Linked DNA regions of Homo sapiens. The protein of the gene in region 1 interacts with the protein of each later gene in a pairwise test. Each region holds a gene or a part of one and is shown on either strand. Other genes may lie near its edges.

What was found. Proteins that work in one complex are often made in the same cells at the same time.
Region 2: the proteins of NCK2 (region 1) and WIPF1 interact in binary tests that used the Homo sapiens proteins (3 or more experiments, as listed by UniProt).

The regions. Positions count from the first base shown.
Region 1 is NC_000002.12:105,852,910-105,859,931, forward strand, and holds part of NCK2 (cytoplasmic protein NCK2), read left to right. Parts: intron 1-2,138; 5' UTR 2,139-2,154; coding exon 2,155-2,380; intron 2,381-7,022. UniProt on the Homo sapiens protein: Adapter protein which associates with tyrosine-phosphorylated growth factor receptors or their cellular substrates. Maintains low levels of EIF2S1 phosphorylation by promoting its dephosphorylation by PP1.
Region 2 is NC_000002.12:174,594,783-174,602,653, forward strand, and holds the start of WIPF1 (WAS/WASL-interacting protein family member 1), read right to left. Parts: upstream 3,023-7,871; 5' UTR 2,819-3,022; intron 1-2,818. UniProt on the Homo sapiens protein: Plays a role in the reorganization of the actin cytoskeleton. Contributes with NCK1 and GRB2 in the recruitment and activation of WASL.

The DNA.
Region 1 (7,022 bases):
TTATGCAGAGGCTTTCCTCCTTCCCAAAAGGTTTGTTATCTTTAAATTTGGAAGTTAATTCATGAAAGAAACGTGTATTATTTATAAAAAAATTTTTTTAGCATCTAGTAGAAAATATGTTATTTAAAAATGGTATTTATGCTTCCATGGAGTCAATGTGCATAGGTCCCCTGTAATCCTAAAGTCATCCCTATACAATAATGAGAACTTCTCTGTCAGGGAGGAAGGGGATTTTAGTCCTGAGTGTTTTCATCATTCATTTCTCCCTAGTTTGGAGAAATGTCTAGTTAGTTTAAGGACTGAATATTGAATTTTTCTGCTTAAAGAATATTGGTTCATCTTCTACCTAAGAAGTAGAGAGTTGCTAAAATAGTTGATTATTTATTTTATTTATTCAGCCACACTTTTGCTATTTATTACTTCCAAAATTGACTTTACTGGATATATAATACACGCATCTATTTATTGTTGTTTTGATAAACTTTTCATTTTGGAAAAATGTTATGTTCACTTTTGATGTTGCACATTTTATAGATTTTAACAAATGTATAATGACAGGTGTCCGCCATTATAGTATTGAGCAGAGTAGTTTCACAGCCTTAAAAATCCTGTGCTTCACCCTTGCATCCCTCCCTTCCCTCTTGCCCCAGGCAAGCACTTATTTTCTTACTGTCTCCATAGATTTGTCTTTTCCAGTATGTCATACCGTTTTAAAGAAAAAACTTATTCATGACATTTGTTGAAGAACAGTAAGGCAGATTTTATTCAGAGGGACTACTACAGTAGGGTTTTGCAGTCAAGAAAGAGATTGGGTTTGACTCCTAATATTAAGACAACAAGGAAGAGTGGGCATTTATAGGCAAGGAGCAAAATAAGGGAGTTGGTGGGTGGAAAATTACTAAGAGGAAACATCAGGGGTGGAGCGTGGGGATTCTGGCTAAACTGACCGAACAGGATTCTTCTGAAGGCAGGACAGGGTGATCAGCTGTCACCTGGGGGATGGTAGAGGATGAGGAACCTGATCAGATGTTGAGAGTGGAGGATTCCAGCTAGAGCACCTTAGCAGGAGAGTCTTGCAAAAATTGGGCAATGCAGAGATGGACACGGAAGTGCAAAAGTTGAGGCCTTAAAGGGAAGAAGATTCAAAGGAATTTGGCTGAAGTTTGGTTAAGGATAAACTGTCAGAATCACACAGTGTGTAGCCTTTTCAGATTGGCTTCTTTCACCTAGCAATATGCGTTTAAGGTTCCGCTATGTCTTTTCATGGCTTGATAGCTCATTTCTTTTTGGTACTGAATAATATTTCATTGTCTGGATATACCACAGTTTATGTATCTATAAACTGTGTCCTACTAAAGGACATTTTGCTTGCTTCCAAATTTGAGCAATTATGAATAAAGCTGCTACAGACGTCTCTGCACAGGTTTTTGTGTGAATGAAAGTTTTGGGGAATAATTTTATATTTATAAAAAAGTTCCCAGTATAGTACAGAACTTTCCCTTATACCCTTTACCTGGTTTCTCATTGTGTTAACATCTTATGTGAATGCAGTAACATCTTACTGGTGTGTTGTCCAAACTAAGAGATTGACAATTATTTATTGTTATTATTATTCTTAGACTTTATTTTGATTTCACCAGTATTTCCATTAATTTTCTTTTTCTGTTTCATGATCCAATCCAGGATACCACCTTGTTATTAGTACAATGTTAATTTTAATTTATAGGAGTAGTTTGGTTATGTTGACTTATTAAATATGTTTATAAGACACAGCATATCCTGAGAAAATGAGTGTCAACCTAACAGTTATCAGGAGGCAGTGTTACTTAATGAAATGGACTCATTTAATTATAATGTTATTTAGAATTTTTTTCAAGTTTGTTTTTGTTAGAGGGTCAGATTTCCCCATGTACAGCAAACAGTAACATAAGATTTGTTTTATAAGGTTGCTGTTTCTAAACCAAATACTAAAGCTTGTTGAAAGAAGGTCATTTTAAAGTTGAGCATTTCAAGACCCAGGAGAAAACTGGTTGCAGAGTTGTAATAAAAGCTGTCAGTGCCTAATTTTTCAAGTTGGTGCAAAGGATGAAGTGTCCGGGTAGTTCTCTAATGAGCATCTCCAAATGTTTTGCTGGCAGAAGGACTCCATGAAAGATGACAGAAGAAGTTATTGTGATAGCCAAGTGGGACTACACCGCCCAGCAGGACCAGGAGCTGGACATCAAGAAGAACGAGCGGCTGTGGTTGCTGGACGACTCCAAGACGTGGTGGCGGGTGAGGAACGCGGCCAACAGGACGGGCTATGTACCGTCCAACTACGTGGAGCGGAAGAACAGCCTGAAGAAGGGCTCCCTCGTGAAGAACCTGAAGGACACACTAGGTGAGTGTTTCACCCTCGAGAGAGGAAGCCTTGTGCATTTCAAGGGACACTGTTCGTCTTTCTAGTTAGTTTGCTGTTTCAAAAAAAAAAAAGTCTGTTTTAAAAGTTAATATCTTCCTAGTTGTCTTTTTTAATAATCTAAGAATTAAGAGATGAAGATGGAGAAAGAGGATGTTTTTCATTTCCTGGAGATTCTGGAGTTTGGGGTCCTGTGTATGGAGACACTTTGTGTGCTTGGGACCCCTGCACAGGTATCTCCTTGTATCAAAACGTTAGAGGAGCCTGACTTGGAATTCTCACCTCTAAGTCTACCCAGCTCTGCCAGTGTCGTGACATGAAGTTCTTTCTCTCTTATACAATCCTGTCCATTTGGCCTACGTGCCTAGAGCAGGGGACAGCCAAAGCACTTTTTCCCTCTCTGAAATGGATGCTACATCACACCACAGTCCTGGGTGCCGTTAGCTAAGAGGGCAGCTTTGTGACATCAGAGGCCGCTCCATGGTGGGGGCCTAGTTCAGCCATACTGTTGTCCCCATGTGCCTCTTTTTTTTTTTTTTTTTTTTGAGACGGAGTCTCACACTCTTGCCCAGGCTGGAGTGCAGTGGCACGATCTTGCCTCACTGCAAGCTCCACCTCCTGGGTTCACACCATTCTCCTGCCTCAGCCTCCCGAGTAGCTGGGACTACAGGCACCCACCACCACATCCGGCTAATTTTTTGTATTTTTAGTAGAGATGGGGTTTCACTGTGTTAGCCAGGATGATCTCGATCTCTTGACCTTGTGATCCGCCCACCTTGGCCTCCCAAAGTGCTGGGATTACAGGCGTGAGCCACCGTGCCCGGCTCCCCATGTGCCTCTTGTTTTCCCAGGTGTTGTCAGGTTATGGGCAGTGCCCTCCTGGAGTTACACAAAGTTAACAGTATCCAGTCTTGCCTTTACATGCACACGGAACTGACTTACAGTATTTACTGCCTCAGATTACCTGAGAAAATAATTGCGAGGACTTTTTTGAAGAATGACTCATCTGAGCTGACATTTAAAACGTTGTTACCTTCTTATGAGTATAATGTTGTCTGTATCCAAGACTGCAGGTTATCACTTAAGGGTTTGCTAGTGAAATGAGTTAATATTATCACCTGTGTCACATTTACTTGGGGTTTTAAAAAAATTTCTAACAAGAGGATTTGTTTTCTTTTGGGGAATGGAGAATGAGGAATACGTAGGAAAACTGAAAGTAAAATTATACACCAAATGTGGTGGGTGTTGCAAAATGTTCATCTTTTCTTTTCTGCCATGTTGAAAAGTCTAAACTCCCTCTGCAAAATCATCGAAAGCCTTCATGTATTAGGTAGTATTTTTGTGTATGGATTAGGTTCTTACCATGATTTGGAGAGATAAGTGAGACATGGAACTTCGTATGAATCATACCAGCTCACTGGCCATCGTAGATTCTCAGCCTGATGGAGAAATTTCATTTTTGATTAGCAATATGCTCCTTCTCCACTGAGCTGCCTCCCTTTCATCTTTTCTTCCCCCACATAAGCATGCCACTTGAAAGAAACACTGTTTTATGCTTATAACTCTTAATTAACTGTGGTTACCAAAAAAAGAGGGTAGCATGAATAGAGAAAAACTTGAAGGTTGTCCTGAGCTTTATTTTTCCAATTTCTACCTTTCACCAAAGTACCATCTTTTTAGTGATGCCAAACATTGTTACGTTGTTGACTTGTTGTGTGTCTTCTTTTTTTTTTTTTTTTTTTGTATTTACAAGATTCTAGTAAAGCATGAAGTGCTTAGAGACTTGTAGGAAGTAGAACAAGGCAAGGCGAGTTCTCTGGGTGACCTGGAAATTCCCTTGAAAACCTTGTCAGTTTTCTTCCTCAGTTTTCTAGAAGCAGAAAAGACAAAGCCACAAATTAAAACTATGAACCACATCTTCCGCCCAGCATGCTTAGTTTTTTCATGAGCTGTGATCGGTTCAGCCAATGCGTGTACTCCCAGGCTCTCAGACTGAGCCAGCCGCCCGTCCTGGAGCCGGCACTGGGCCCGCGCCCGTCCCCGACAGATGGCCATCCAGCCCTGCTGGAGCGCAGCGTCGGTTCGAGTAGGCCAATCCCATTTTTGGCGAAAACAGATTGTTAGAAAGCTCTTCCTTAAATAGAATCAGATTTTTACATTTCTTTAACTTTCTTCCTTCCTTTGGCTCTTATTCTGCCCTCTAGGCCTGTGCTGAGTAGGTCAGATCCTCTTCTGTAGAGTGTCAGCCCTCCCATAGGCTTGGTCTCAGTTCAGGCAAGCAGTTCTTGGGAAACATTCCTGTTAAGCATTAGCTATTGTAAAAATACAGAAAAAATGATGTTCTGAACCCCTTTATTGAGTATAGCAGTTGATCTTCATAGCCAAAAGGCCCTTGGGGATCAGTATCCCCGTCATGAGGGAGAAATATCCCCATGGTTAGTATATATTTTTTGTTTTGATCTCTTTATCATGCTCACCTGGAGGTTTTTGTTGGACAAAGGGATGTTGTTATCTCAGCATGAGTTTTCCCTTGCCCTGTTGAGCTGCATCCAGTGGAAGAGGAGGCACCCCCGATCAGGTCTCACCATCATGCAGTAACTTCTGTGCACTTCTGTGCAAAGCTTATAGATGTGGCGTTGCCAAGAAGGAAAGTGAGAATGCTTTCCATAGCCCCTCCTGCCTCTCATTAGTTGCATTTGTGTGTGTTTGTGTTTTGTTTTTTGTTCTTTGTTTTTTGGGGTTTTTTTTTTGTTTTTTTTTTTGCTAAAAAGATAGGAGCCAAAGTGTTCATGGCTTCCTATTACTGTTGGTGATGATAATTAAACAGGTATACCATCAGAATGACAGTATGACTTTAGGCCAATTGTGCAGCCTGCAGAAATTATCCCTGCTGTGTATTAGGCATGGAAACAGCATCAAAAGTACACCACATGTATACTGACCACGGTTTGTTTTTGTTTTTGTTTTTTGAGACAGGGCCTCACTCTGTTGCCTAGGCTGGAGTGCAGTGGCACAATCCCTGCTTACTGTAGTATTGACCTCAGGTGATCCTCCCACCTTAGCCTCCCGAGTATCTGGGACTACGGGCATGCACTACCACACCCAGCTATTTTGTATTTTTTATAGAGACAGGATTTTGCCATGTTGCCTGGGCTGATCTTTAACTCCTGGGATCAATCTAGTAACTCATGGCACCACCCACATTTGCCATTTTTACTGCTTTGGGAGTCCACCTAATTCATAAATCCATGGTAAGATTCCTTCCTGCTTTGGAATAAAATGGCACCGGCCTCCCCAGCAAAACCACAGTGTTGTGTATTGCATCTCCAACTGTAGATTACCCTAACTCTGTGTAGTTCTCTCCTGCTTTCTTGTACTCATTTGCTGTCCTGAAGTTGTTAATAAACTTAATTTTGTCACATACAGTACTTTGTTAAGAGTAGCTTGAGGAAAGACGTGAGAACCTTTGACAAAAAGCTCTCTCATGAAAGTATTTACCTGCTTTCTTTCTCTGCAATAATTTAAAATTGATAAAAGCAACCTGAGCTCTTATTTTCACATGGGCAAAACATTTGTATACTGGATCTCTTCTCATATTCAGCTTATGATCATGAATAGTCAGAACTTTGCCACAGATAACAGGGAACAATGATCAAGAACTGTTTCTGCTGGCAGAATCCAGTTGATGTTTTTGAAGGGCTCAGACTGCACAGCTCTGAGCTCAGTGGAGAGCGGTCCTGGGCTGAGGTCTGGCCTTAATACTGCAACTCCACTTAGAAAATTGTGCAGGCGAGGTGTTGTAAAAGCACTATGCTACATCTTTTGAGATGGGGAAGCTGCTCCCAGGGAGGTATTTTTCAAAGATTTTCCCTCAAGCTACTGAAGAGCAGTTTTTTGTTACTACTTTATGACACCAGCTGGAGCCTTGCAAAGCCCCAAAGGTTAATTCTCTTTTCGGTGGTTAACATAGGCTTAAGGGCTGACTCACATTACCCAAAAAGTTACGGTTCCATTTACAACCTGATCATATCCTCAGGAGGGTTTGTTCACAGGCCCACCTGCCCGTGGCTCACCCTGCCACCCTACCTACCTGGGACTTCTGCATCCAGCGTCACCTGCCCCAGGGCTCACTCCTCAGCATTCCTCCCAACAGGACCACACCTAGGCCTAGCGTGGTTAGAAACTTGCATGATCAGCCCCAGAACTCCTGCCTCTGATCCAACCCAGACCTGGGAGCACAGAGGCTACTGAGAGGGCTCCCTAATGCTAACTGTGAAACAGCCTTTGCACTGGTTTGAGCTGATGCTTTTGGATGGGGACAGGGTGGCTGGCACCCGTGGGTGAAATTGACAGGGTTCTGAGAGGCATATCCCTGCTAGGATCAACTTTGGAATTGAACTGATCAAAGTCACAAGGAGTACAGCTGTAGGATTGTTACGTAAGATCCAAAAGCAGTGAAAAGCAACACTTGGTGTTAGAATTAAGATTACAGTACTCTGGAGGGAGGGAGGCAGAGCCTCAGTGAAGGTACAGGGGCTTCTGTCTTGGTGATCTGCCCTGGGGTCTGTGGGGCAGGCTCACGGGCACACCTGCCTTGGAGGAGTTTGCAAAGCTGACTGCTTAT
Region 2 (7,871 bases), about 69 Mb from region 1:
AGCTTTATGATATAAGCAGAAGTGTCACCAAGTTTACCTCTGAAGAAGTGAAAAGACTTAAAAAGGAAAATATCTTACTTGAGATTGTTAGTTTTAAAGATATTTACTGTTGCTGTGACATTTAAAGCAAAACATTTGTAATCTCAGATTCCCAAGGCCGGAAAAGCACCTCAAGAAATCATACTGGCTGGGTGTCGTAGCTCATGACTATAATCCCAGCACTCTGGGAGGCCAGGGTGGGAAGATAGCTTGAGCCCAAGAGTTTGAGACCATCCTGGGCAAACATAGTGGGACCCTCATCTCTACAAAAAAAAAAAAAAAAAAAAAATATATATATATATATATATATATATATATAATTAACTGGGCATGGTGGCACACATCTGTAGTTCCAGCTACTTGGGAGGCTGAGGTGGGAGGACTGCTTGAGTCCAGGAGTTTGAGGGTGCAGTGAGCTGTGATCATGCCATTGCACTCCAGTGTGGATGACAGAGCAAAACCCTGTCTCAAAAAAAAAAAAAAAAAAAACAGAAAAGAAAAAGAAAAACAGAAATCATACAATTTATAATGTTGCTTCCAAGCTGCACTTGTGAAAAAAAGCTCTTACAATTCAGATAACTTCCTCCACATTTAGTTGTTAGGTGGCCTTGGGTAAATTACTTAGCTTATGTAAGTCCGGTTTTCAAAATAATAGCACCTACTTAGTAGGGTTATTCAAGAGTTAAATGAAGGAGTGCTTAATAAGTATTAGCCATTTTCAAAAAATAAAATAAGCAAAGGTGAAGAACGTAACACAAAATAAGTGGTCAGTAAATATCACAGTCTTTCCCCCTATTTAACCACGAGAAAGAGAAACCATGAGCTGATTTAAATCAGCCTATGTGTGTACACCCATGCAAACTTCCATATTACAAGTGAATGGTGAAGGGAGATGTGTATAAAGTGCATTTCAAATTTCTCAGAAAAGCATACTGATTAAGGCATTCCTTATTCTAGTATTTTTTTACAGTTTTAATTTTCAGGACAGACAGAGGTATTTATGGAAGTCCAGGAGAAATGCTTTCTTCAACAACAAGCACATGTTTAACAATTTGGACAAAATGAGTCAAACCTTAAAGCAGAAATATATCATAATTTAAACAGCCAGAAACTTCCAAAGTAAATGATGTGTGTTCATAAAATGTTAAGAAGGCTTCAAAAGGTCATAACACTTAAAGGGTCCAGGAATTCAGTATCACTTCATCTCATATTTTAGGTAGGCTGGGGAACTTCCAGCCTACAGGCCAGATTTAGAATTTGATCAGATCTGAAGTTGCTGCTCGATCCCAGGAACTAATTTTCACCACAGGGAGTTCTCTGAATATTTCAGTCCACCCAGAGTATGTGTAACCCTTAAAAGGTTAGATATTAGAGTAGCTGAAGCGCTATGAGCAAATAGCCCATGAATAAACTTTTCAAAGAGCAATAGAAAACCTGACTTAGTGAAAAATGACTTTCAGGTAAGTCATTTAATGACCTTAGACTGATAAAAGGAAGAGTTTTGACATGATGATATTCCAGTACAGAAGAACAAAGCTTGATAAAGTTAACACATAGCACTGTAGTCCAAGTGAATTGTAAGAGTATGATTTCCACACAGATCAACCTCAAAACCTTTTCCCAGTTTCTCATCTTCCTTTCTCACTGTCCTGTCCTATTCTTTCCCCAGTCTTTCATCTTTCTCTCTACCAAGCTGTCTTACTTTGCTTAGTTAGAATCTTTCAGTAGCCTTTTCATTTACCACCTCTCCATTCTCTACTACATATACTAGTTATGCCATTAAATTATTTAAAATAACTTGTATGCCTGTAATCCCAGCACTTTGGGAGGCCGAGGCGGGCAGATCACTTGAGGTCAGGAGTTTGAGACCAGCCTGACCAACATGATGAAACCCTGTCTCTACTAAAAATACAAAAACAAAAAAAACAAAAAACTTGTACTTAGTGACTAAAGTTATATGTGCCTTCTGAGTTTTTTAAAGCTTTATTTTATATTTCTTCACGGGGAGAAAGGAACATAAGTCAAATTGTTTCTTCCTACATATTCTAGAAAAAAGTTTTTTAATGTAAAAAGTTTCCTTAGTTCTGCTCTATAAGCCTCTGAGTAGATGGCTTGAAATTTTAAAAATCACAATATTTTATGCCAAAACATTAATCATATTAAACATAAAGTTATAACTAATGCTGTAGAATTTGATTTGCGATAGTAATTGTGCACACACTGTTATAACAGGAATAGACTTATTCTAAAAGACAAATCGTATTATAAAAGACTCTGCTTAGAAATGGTTTAGTTTGAGTTTTGAACTTAAATAGCACATTGGCAGCAACAGAACTGCAACAGCTTAGTTCCATGGTATTTTCGTTTGAAGCTTCCAATGGCTCCTTGTACTTTAAAGCACTTATTGTTGCTGGCCACACCAAAGATTCAAAGGCAGTTGTGTGGACAACTGTATCATACACCAAAAGGATATATTTACCGACATAAGCCCCCAATTTAAATGGGAAAATAAATTCCTGTGGATCCAAACTTGTCCAGTGGTCAAAAAAATTCTATTGAAAATCTTGCTTACATTTTGGCTCAAAGCATAAGTTATGAATCATTCACAATCACCATAGTGGTGAAACTAGCATTCTGGGCAACAGGAATAGCTCACATGGTGCTCTACAGAAAAATTAAACAACTTTATCTTGACATACTATGGTCCATTAAAAGCCATTTAGTTCTTCCCTGTAGCTGATAAATGAAATAAACTTAGTTTGAATATAATTTTTCTTACCGTTAAAGGGTACTGCAGGGAGCCATGGTCAGGGACACAGGCAGACAGAGGGCCAGCGGGACAGGAGCCAAGAGAGAAAACTGTCCCTGAAAAAGGTATCATCTTCTAACGCAAGTGTGGGGTCGTTTTTGGACAGCCATTTTGGACAAGCTCTGGCCTCTTGTTAAATGTGACATACTGAGTCAGAGGCAGACGTCCTTCTGTGGTTATTCGCTTCCTGTCTGATTAATTTGTTGTTTGTTGTTCCTTCCTCCTTTGCTGCAGAAAAAGAAACTAGATTGGTTTTGCTTAAGAAGCAAGCAAGAAAAAAAACCTAAATTAAAAAAAATTAAATGTTTCTCCTCCCCACAAGGTGTAATACACAGCTATTTGGTACAGTGACAAGAGGAGATGAGCACCTCCACTCAGTGAAGAGTCCAACTTTATTCTAGATATTCCCACAAAAATAACTGTTCATGGAACTTGAGATTCCTTTAGGAAAATTATATTTGAAAGTATCACTGTAAATACTGACTATTCCATTGAGTAATAGGGAAAAGAGTCACTCAAGAAAGAAAAGCTCTTACCTACCTTACCTTATCGCTTCATTAGGCTAAGGGCTTCTTCTCATTTACAGGGCATTCAAGTGTGTGGGGAGAAAGTTACAAATGCAGGTAAAGAGAGCAGGTCAGGTGTATGAAGGCAAATGAGGTTCTTTTTTTGGTTTTGTTTTATTTATTTCTTTTTTTTTAGAGAGACAGTCTTGCTGTCACTTAGGCTGGAGTGCAGTGGCGTAATCATAGCTCCCTGTGGCCCTGACCTCCTGGGTTCGAGCAATCCTCCAGCCTCAGCCTCCTGAGTAGCTGAGACTACAGGCATATGCCACTGCACCTGGCTAATTTATTTTATTTTTATATTTGGTAGAGATGGGATCTTGCTTTGTTGCCCAGCCTGGTCTTGCACTCCTAGCTTCAAAGTGATCCTTCCATCTTAGCTTCCCAGATTGCTGGGATTACAGGCTTGAGCTACCATACTTGGCAGCAAATGAGTTTTGAAACGTGATTTTGGTGCCCAAGTCAGGGTAATAATATACAGCTTAAGTCAGCTGCAGATCCATAGCTTTCTATGCCAAATGTTTCTGTCCCCCACACTTAATGGGATAACAGTAACTCTCCTAGAAGATGCTTGACAAAAGCATAGAGATAAAGAGGGTGGAAGGAAGAAAGTCAGATTTCTCATTATTAAAGAACTCAAGAGGTGGATGGCAATGGAATACATGTAGAAAACATTTTATCAAAACCTTGAGTTATGTATAGAACGATCTGAAAATGCTCATAATTTTTTCTTAACCCATCTTAAAGGTTCAGACTTACATATGCAACACATAGTATATAACTCTGAGAAAACAGTAACAGTCAAAGAATTTAAAAGAGAGGCATATTTCAGAAACTAGCTTCATTGTAAAATCTGAATGTTGGGTCCTGATTCTGCTAGGATCAGAGGCCAGAGGCATGAAAAGAACGTATGTTGTCTAACATTGCCTTACCTGTAAAGTGATGGAACTGGGCTAGATGAGTAATTTTCAACTCAGGTAGCTGTTGGGGGTGGTGAGCAGTGAGTGGGAATGGTGGGGGCAGGGGCCTGTAGCATTCAGTGGGTGGGGCCAGGAATGGGAAATTTCCTATGGTGCTTATGACAGTCCCACCCAAAATACCAGAAGTGCTCCTACTGGGGAGTACTGGGACAGATGATGTCTAAGGATCTTTTAAACTCAAAATTCCCTGAGATAGGAGTCTAATTGCATGAGCAGATTCATGATGCCAGGCCATGGGCACAGTTCCTGGAGTGGAGTACCCAAGAATAAGTGACTGAGAGTCCTCTGCTTTGCCTGGAGCCCCTTGAAGGCAGGGACCGCCTCTTGTCTAACTCTGGCCTGGTGTCCACCCGTGACTTAGGTCACAAATAAATACCTGCAGGCATGGGGCTGGACAGAGGTGGAGGCCTACAGCTATCAGCCACTTCCCGCGATACAAACCCTCAGGAAAACAGAAAACTTGATCAACTATTAAGTAAATGCCTGAGTGAATCTTTGGGGAAGTCTAATTATAGTTGGGTCTAAAAAGAGAACATGGGCGATATGACAATTTCTCTACGTATTTTCAGAATTATTTTGAAGTTCTCTAAGTAAGACACCCCAAACACACACACACACACTCTCTCTCTCTCTCTCTCTAGCTATCTCTCTCTCTCTCTCTCTCTCTCAGTACACATACCATTCATGGCTATTTCCATCCCTTAGGGGAGTGGTCCCTAACCTTTTTGGCACCAGGGACTGGTTTTGTGGAAGATAATTTTTCCACGGAGTGGGGGCAGGGGGTGGGGATGGTTTCAGGATGAAACTGCTCCAACTCAGATCATCAGGCATTAGATTCTCATAAGGAGCTCGCATGCACAGTTCACTTTAGGATTCTTGCTCCTCTGAGAATCTAATGCGCAGCTGATCTGATAGGAGGCAGAGCTCAGGAGGGAACACTTGCTCACCAGCTGCTCACTTCCTGCTGTGTGGCCTGGTTCCTAAGGGGCCATAGACTGGTTGGAGACCCCTACCTTAGGAAAAGCTCACTTAGAAGGGAGTATGTCACCTAGAAGGCTGCAGTCCCCAAGACATGCAAGGGAGTAGTTGTGTAGTTTGAGTCTATTCCTACAGTCAACTTTGGACACATTTATCAGGTGTCTACTATGCATGTTAGGACATAAATTAGATAATGTTCCTCCCCTGCTTAAAACCCTCCAATGACTTCTCATTTCACTTAAAAAGTCCAAACTCTTAGGTCCACAGGGACCCACGAGATCTGGCCCCTCCTTAACTCTCTGCCTTCATCTCAAGTAATATTCTGCCTTGCTAATTTACCTTCCAAATCTTTCTGTTCCTTAAATGCACCAAGCTCATTTGCATCTTCAGGCCTTTTACTTGCAAGCCTGGTACTCACGCCTGGTACACTCATCTTTTTGTTCCTTTTTATTCTTCAAATGTCAGCAAAAATGCTCTCCCTCATGACCCATTTCTGCTGTTTTCTTTTATGCATAGCATGCGTCACCGCTTGACACTGTCTTATTTATCTGTTTATTTACTTGTATGTTTCTCTCCACTAGAATTCAAGCTCTATGAGAGCAGGGACCTTGTCCATCTTGTTTCTGCTGTTGCTTCAGCATCTAATGCAGGTGTTTGACTGCTGTTGCTTCAGCATCTAATGCAGGTGTTTGAAAATAGTGTTTGTTGAATGGAAAAGAAAATCAATGTTTCTTACGAATTCTACTACAGCATAATGTTCCTTTTTTTTTTTTTTTTTTTTTTTTTTTTTTGAGACAGAGTCGTACTCTGTCACCCAGGCTGGAGTGCAGTGGCATGACCTTGGTTCATTGCAATCTTCACTTCCCAGGTTCAAGCGATTCTCATGTCTTGGCCTCCCTAGCTGGGACTACAGTCGTGCACCACCACGCCTGGCTAATTTTTTTTTTGTATTTTTAGTAGAGACGGGGTTTCGCCATGTTGGCCAGGCTGGTCTCCAACTCCTGGCCTCAAGTGATCTGTCCACCTCAGCCTCCCAAAGTGCTGGGATTATAGGTGTGAACCACCACGCTGCCCAGCATAATGTTCCTTTAAAAGCTTAAGACTGTTCCCCCTGAAATGGTAAATAACAAATGCCAAGACTAGACTTAAGCCTTCTTGGGAGAAGCTGTTAAAGGGAAATTTTCCAGAGAAAAGGTCAGCAGGTAAAACCCTTGGCCCATCAGTGGGCCTGGCAGTGCAGGCAGAGTCTTATGCAGTGCAGGTGGCTTACACCATTGGGCAATGTGAAGAGAAAAATGGATTAAGAAAATTGAAAACAAATAGAACAATCAGAAAGGAAGGGGGGGAAATAAAAAGATAAAGAAAATAAGGCAAGAAAAGCTGGAGATGGGGAGAGATCATGTGGTGGGTAGAGGAGAGCTACAACCACACTGCTGACCTCAGAGGCTTTGGAAGCCACCTCTGCAGTGGATGACCCACAGGTGCTGGATGTAACAGTGCTGTCTGGCCTTCCGCAGTGAAGCGGAGTTCTCAGCTCAGTGTCAGCTTTTCCAGCAGCCACGTTCTTTAAAAAGAAAAGAACTTTAAGGCTGCAGGAGACTTGCAGAGATCAAAGTCTACATCACCACTTACAGAGGAAGAAACAGGGGTCCAGAGAAGTTAGGCATCCTGCTCATGTCACACAGCTGGCAGCAGCAGAGCAGTGGCCAAAGCCTGGGCTCCACTCCACTGTCCAGCGCCATTAATGTCTTTAGCCTCATTTCAGGTTCGGGTGATACCACCTACCTCCTTTCTGTAAGTACAAGAAGAGGCAGAAGAAAGAGGGTGGAGAGAAAGGCTGTGATGCGGATGGGAGAGGTTGTTATACTATAACCAAAGGCCTGAGATAAGTGGATTGAAAGCCTGGATGAATAAAGACAATCACAATTCTGGACTTAAAGAGAATTTTAAATGCGTATCTCTTTCCCATTTAATATGCATCAGTCTGAGCTTAATGACAGAGTAAAACAATAACCAATAGGCTCGCAGACCAATCACATAAAGAATCCTCCATATTAATCTATAGAAATAAAAAACCAAGAGCAGGCAGAAGATTATAAAACAATAATGTAGGTCTAGCCAGTGTAGAAAAAGTGCTGAAGAATCACAGCCTCCTGCCGTGGCCCCCAGTCAACATGGACTGAATCAGTGCAACAGTGGCATGTGTAAAATATGGCAACATAAGTTTTAAATAATTCTGGTTTTTCAAGTTGTGTTTCCATGACTACCTGTTATGGTGCAGTATTTCCCCAGTAGTGGAAAGGTGTTTTATAATACTGCATCCCGCAGTTCTAAAACTTACATTATTCCTTCTTATACTGCAGAATGACTCCTTATAGATTTTTAGGGTGAAAAAGAAACACTACCAGATTAAAGATATGCATTAGTTGTAAGAATCTATTTTCAAAATGTTAAAATATGGGAATTATTTGATTTAAAAGAGCAGAAACAAAGGAATAATCC